2 separate regions of the Homo sapiens genome follow, and region 2 is linked to region 1. Evidence: fine-mapped QTL for protein levels in blood plasma. Region 1 holds a variant in brackets. A gene starts in the other region. All regions are shown on their reverse strands.

The links. A credible set is the group of variants that fine-mapping cannot tell apart. PIP is the chance, under the fine-mapping model, that this variant and not a neighbour inherited with it causes the effect. The UK Biobank Pharma Proteomics Project read protein levels with antibody pairs (Olink). The fine-mapping took linkage between variants from a reference panel, not from the people measured, so its PIPs are less certain.
Region 2: it holds the start of CD55, and the variant in region 1 is the best candidate, but not a certain one, in a credible set for the plasma level of the CD55 protein (UK Biobank, PIP 0.61).

What each region holds. Positions count from the first base shown.
Region 1 is chr8:133,535,270-133,538,181 of GRCh38, reverse strand. The region is part of intron 2 of ST3GAL1 (ST3 beta-galactoside alpha-2,3-sialyltransferase 1); the gene reads left to right. Among named protein-coding and RNA genes, the nearest start is that of ST3GAL1-DT, 34 kb to the left of the region's middle. The variant G/T (reference allele first, on the strand shown) is at 1,316.
Region 2 is chr1:207,319,784-207,322,668 of GRCh38, reverse strand. It overlaps CD55 (CD55 molecule (Cromer blood group)), which reads right to left and starts at 991. Exons shown (of 10, transcript NM_000574.5): 1 at 804-991; 2 at 102-287. The coding sequence starts at 903. It overlaps LOC107985251 (a long non-coding RNA gene), which reads left to right and starts at 540. Exons shown (of 3, transcript XR_007066838.1): 1 at 540-983. RefSeq lists a silencer at 716-795 and an enhancer at 1,356-1,565.

The DNA.
Region 1 (2,912 bases):
AGCAGCAAAAAACAAAAACATGGTTTCTGCTGTCATGGAACTTAGTCTGGCCTGCTGTTTGCTCCTTCTGCCTATACTTTCTTCCTCCAGCTTTCACTAGAGAGATCTTTCGGAAGCCCTCCATGGTTCCGCAGTGCCCTCAAATGCAGCCCCTCCCTGCCCCTATTGTCTCATGTGTAAAATGGAGCAGAAGACGCACAGACCTTCCAGACCTCAGAGTGTAGCTCTTCTCAGTTGTTGGCTAGAGGCTTTGCAGTCACAACTCTCATCATTACCATCTTCTAGAAAGGTCAGGCACCGGACAGCTGAAACCATGGCAGCCGGCAACAGGAAGTGCCCTCCCTGGGTGCTCAAAGATCCAAGACAGCCGGGCCCTGTGTTTGTAGGAACAAGATTCCAGATGCCTCTGCTGCTTGCCAGCCTCGTGACCTTCATTCATGCAGGGCCTTGTTTTCTTGATTCAGTGGGGCCAATCCCGGCCCCCAGGGGAGATGGATGCTGCAGGGATGTGCAAGCTGTAGAGGGTTCCAGAGAATGGGCCTGGCGTTCTGCAAGCCTGGCACCCCTCCTGGATGCTTTTCTCCAGCCCTTGGAGCTTAGGCAGTGTAGTGTTAGGATGATTATTGGATTTCCTCCACAGTTCCTGGCTCATTCTTTTGTAGCCCTTGTTACAGCCTTTTGTGATAATATTGGGTGTGGCAGGCCTCAGGACACAGGATGTCTCCAACTTTCTCCTGCCTTCCTTCCCCTGCCCTAACACAGGACTCTAATCTTTCCCTGACTTTCTGACTGTGGGTCTTGAGATCCTCCCCAGAGAGGGTCCTACCCTGTACCCTGGGAGAAGGAATGCTGATGTCAGGAAGCTTCCATAAAACCCCAGAAGACTGGGTTGGAAGAGCTTCCAGATAGCTGAGCACTGGAGGTTCCTGGAGGGTAGCATGCCCCTTCCCCCATACCTCCCCCCACGCATCTCTCTATCTGTATCCTTTGCACCAGTAAATATGTTTTCCTGAGTTCTGTGAGCCCTTCCAGCAAATTAATTGAGCCCAGAAAGGGGGTCATGGGAACCCAATTTGAAGCCAGTTGGTCAGAAGTTGCAGAGACCCGGACTTGAGGCTTGTGTTTGGGGTAGGAGTTGGGGGCAGTCTGGGGCACTGATCTCTCAACCTGTGGGAACTGACCCTGTCTCCAGGTAGATGGTGTCAGAATTAAATTGGAGGACACCCAGCTGGTGCATGGTGTGTGGGCACAGAAGTCTTCTGTGTTGACCGTTCGGGTGTGAGAGCAGAGGATAGGCAGGGTTTCAGAGATTTTA[G/T]GAAATAGGTGGGAATAACACTTTCTGAGACTTGGTTTCCCCATCTGTAAAAAAGGAAGTAGTAATAGTACCCACTTGGGAGAGTTCTGTGAGGACTCAAATGACACGAGGACTCAAAAAGCTGGGTACGGTGTCTGGCCCATCGTAAAGGCTGAGTAATTGACAGGTGCATTTATCCCTGTGGTTCCTCACTGAGCCCGTGATAAATGGGCCTGTGGCAGGACATGAGTGAGCTGCAGGAACAGGAGCCAGGCCTCCCACCTTGCCGGCTTGGAAGACCGTCTGGCTGCAGCAGAGACATTCTTCCCAGAAAGAAGGGGCTTTCCATGGTGAACCACTGTGGCCAGGCCCAGAGGCCTTTACAATGCCAATGTCCCAAGAAGAGAGGGGCCATCAGAAGGATGGAAATTTTCTATGTGCTTCCAGAAATCAACCTACAGATTGATCCCTTCTCAAAAGACTAATTTTTATTCTAGTCATGCCCAGCTATAAGCATTTGGGCATTTACAGATAATCTTTGTTCCTGAAGGGCATCCGAATATGTCCTTCCTCCTTTTAATGCCCATGACCCTTACTATCCTGGAACAGAGTCCACATTGCAGAAAGGACAAGGCTCACCACGTTCAGGGCCCCATCAAGACCCCCAGCCTCATGTGTGCTCTCCCTGTCCCACCCCACCCCACCTTCTGCTAATCACAGAGTCATCTTCACAGTGTGAACCCTGAATACAGATGACCCGGGTTCAAATCACACTTCTGCTTCTTTTGCCACCTTGGATACAGTATCTTCTCTTGATCTCAGTTTCCTCATCTGCAAAATGGACATAACGGATAACAACAGCACCAAACTCCAGGATTGAATGAGTTAATACAGATGTGGAGATATTTCAGGCTTGGTTCCAGGCCACTGCAATAAAGTGAGGATTGCAGTAGAGCAAGTCATACAAATTATTTTGGTTTCCCAGTGCACACAAAAGTTGTATTTATACTATACTGTACTGTAGTCTATGAAGTGTGCAGTAGCATTATGTCTAAAACAACAATGTACATATCTTAATTAAAAAATACTTTTTTGTATTTTTTAATTAAAGCCATGCTGGCTTATGCTCCTAGCACTTTGGGAGGCTGGGGCGGGCAGATTGCTTGAGGCCAGGAGTTCCAAACCAGCTTGGGCAACATAGCGAGATTCACCCCCTACCAAAAAAAGTGAAAACATTAGCCGGGAATGGTGCATGTGCATCTATAGTCCTAGTCACTTGGGAAACTGAGGCCAGAAGTTCAAGGCTGCAGGGAGCTATGAACAGAACTTGACAGAGCGAGACCTTGTTTCTAAAAAAAAAAATTAAAAAATACTTTCTTGCTAAAAAATGCCAATGGAATGAGCACATACTGTTGGAAAAATGGCACCAATAGACTTGCCCAACACAAGGTTGCCACGATTAGTAAAGACAATAACAACAAAAAAATAATGCAGCACCTGTGAAGTCTGATTAAGTGAATATGCCTATGTATGTGAAAGTGCTTAGAACCCTGCTAGACACAGCAGTCTCTAACAGCCAGTATTCTATAGATCTATAGAGAATATGAAGCTAAAGATG
Region 2 (2,885 bases), not on the chromosome of region 1:
CGCTAGAGAACTATCAATTACTAGTCACTCCAAAGGTATATAAAAATAAATTTAAGATACATTCCATTCCCAGAACTTTTCTAAAAAGATGAAGAACTTACGATTGCAGAACTCTTCAATATCTGACCATTGACTGCCCTTAAGGCAGATCACTGAGTCCTTCTCGCCAGGAATTTTCACAAAGCTTTCTTCACATTTGTACGTTATTACAGTATCCTCGGGAAAACTTGTACGGCCTTCCAAAGCTGGCTGGGCATTAGGTACATCTGGGGGAAGGCCACAGTCACCTAGGGAGACAAAAGCAGAACTGAAGGAAATGACTATCAAGTGTCCTCACAGTTGCTGTTTTCAAGACACAAGCCCCCTTGAAATGCCACACCTGAAAGAGATGACATGCAAGTTTGCAGCATCGTGTGCTCCACACGGCTGGACTCTGTCGAGAGTGGGGAACGGTCAGCGGTCTGGCCTCCCATCCTTTTAGACCAGCTTTTTGGGGGTTAAGGATACAGTCTCTTTGAGCCCTCCCTTTCGATTTTGCCAGGCTTGGCTGCTCCGCAAACCCAGCCGGGGCCTCTTTAACCCTCCACGCCGACCCCTAAAGCCAAGTCAGCTGGGGGCCGACACAGCAGGAGCCCCAAATGCTGGTGAGCGGCGAGAGCCTTAAAGGCACAGGACGGCGGGAACCACGACCGCGGGCCAAGCTCCCCACCTGCCAAGTCGCCGGCCCCTGTGCGTGTCTCAGAGACCGACTTGGACCTCCCACCCAGCCCAGGGGCTTCCCCGGCCGCCGGGCCCCTACTCACCCCACACGGCCGGCAGGCACAACAGCACCAGCAGCAGCAGCCGGGGCAGCTCCCCGAGGAGGGGCAGCGCCGCGGGCACGCTCGGCCGCGCGACGGTCATGGCGCGCCGGGTTAGAACAAGGACGCGCCGCCGGGACTCCGCCGAGTCGCAGCTACGCCCAGCGGCCGGAGCGAGTTGCAGTAAGCAGAAGCCTCGTGGCTCCGCAATACCAGTTAAATGAGTGCTTTGGGCGGGGTCTGGGCTGGGGCTCTGCGTCACCAAGGGTGGGACAAACAAGACGGGTGGAGTAGGGGTTTGTTGTGGTCAGAGGTGCGGTCAGAGGGCTCCGGCGTCATACGCCCCGGGGGCCCTAGACTCGGGGAGAGTGGGGAGGGGAAGGAGGAGGAGCTCGCTGGCAACACCCTCTGGGACTCACTCTCTCCACTGCTGGGTGGGGCCTGCGATGACCTGCCTTCTAGAAACCTAAATATCTCCTCGCTACGTAAACACAAACGGGGTGTAAACGGGAGAGGGGGAGGGGTGCTCAAGTATCGCAGGCCTTGCTGCCCGCACGTGAGTTCGTCTAAGCGGAGCATCCCCGCGCTTGAGTGCTGCCAAGGGGACCTGCAGGTGCGGTGGAGTTCGGGGGCTGAGACTCAGGCGCTGAGACGCGGTGCTCTACCCGCGTCTTGGGCCCTCTACTGGGAGGTCTGTCAAAGGCCAGCACGAGGGTGGGGAAATAACTAAGGAGGAAGGGCGTCATCTCCTAGAACACTCTCTAATGTGAAAACAGAGACCTGGGGAAACAGGTTGAATAACACAGTAGGGAGTGAACATTGTTCATGCCTTGTTCGGGTGGGAGTCATTTTCTTCACCCGGGTTCTCCTTATTTACGAAAGACACCACTTTGGGATTACTCCAGACTGACTGTAGAGAGAAATTCACCAGTGTGCGTGTGTGTATGTGTGTGTGTGTGTGTGTGTGTGTGTGTGCGCGCGCGCGCGCGCGCCTCGGGGCGGTGTGGGGTGGGATAACAATAAAAACAAACAGACCCCAAAACGCTGAATGGTGGTGGGGTGGATTTTAAGAGGAAGGCTTGTTACAAACCCTTTAGAATAAATAGCCTGAGGTTTGCAAGACTGGCCACACATTAGAATCACGTGGGGAGCTTATATATATATTTATATTTATATATTCATATATATTTATACATATATAAATATATATTCTTTAAGTTCTGGAATACATGTGCAGAACATGCAGGTTTGTTACATAGGTATACACGTGCCATGGTGGTTTGCTGCACCCATCAACCCAACATCTACATTAGGTATTTCTCCTAATGCTATCCCTCCCCTAACCCCCACCCTCCAACAGGCCCCCGTGTGTGATGTTCCCCTCCCTGTGTCTGTGTATTCTCATTGTTCAACTCCCACTTATGAGTAAGAACATGCAGTGTTTGGTTTTCTGGTCTTATGTTAGTTTGCTGAGGTTGATGGTTTCCAGCTTCATCCATGTCCCTGCATAGGACATGAACTCATCCTTTTTTATGGCTGTGTAGTATTCTATGGTGTATATGTGCCACATTTTCTTTATCCAGTCTATCATTGATGGGTATATGGGTTGGTTCCAATCCAGAGGCCCAAACTGCACCTTAGACAAATTAAATCAGCATCTTTGGGGATGGGACTGGGTATCAGGATTACTTAAAGTGCCACACTGTGCAGCCAGGTTTGAGAACCACAGACCTATATGGTACTGGTCAGAGTAAAGATCTATCCAGCTTAGGACCACCCCTGTCGAAAACAGAAAGGATATAGATGGCAAGGTGGGTTGCCCTTCTTCATAGAGAATAGCCTCAAGAACATGCTTCCCTGTAATAATTTATCTGGGTCTGGCTAGCAGAGTCCTAGCCTAGATTCCTTTTCCCTTAAATGCCTTACCTCGTTAAGTGAAATTCCCTACTTGGAATTATACTTTGGTCTATGGACCAGCTGTGGGGGTATTTGTTATATCCTATCATTATATTCTTTCCTGAAGGTTTTCTGATAGCTCTTTCCTGGTTGGTATGAGCTTTTTGAGGAGGAAAACAGCAATTTTTC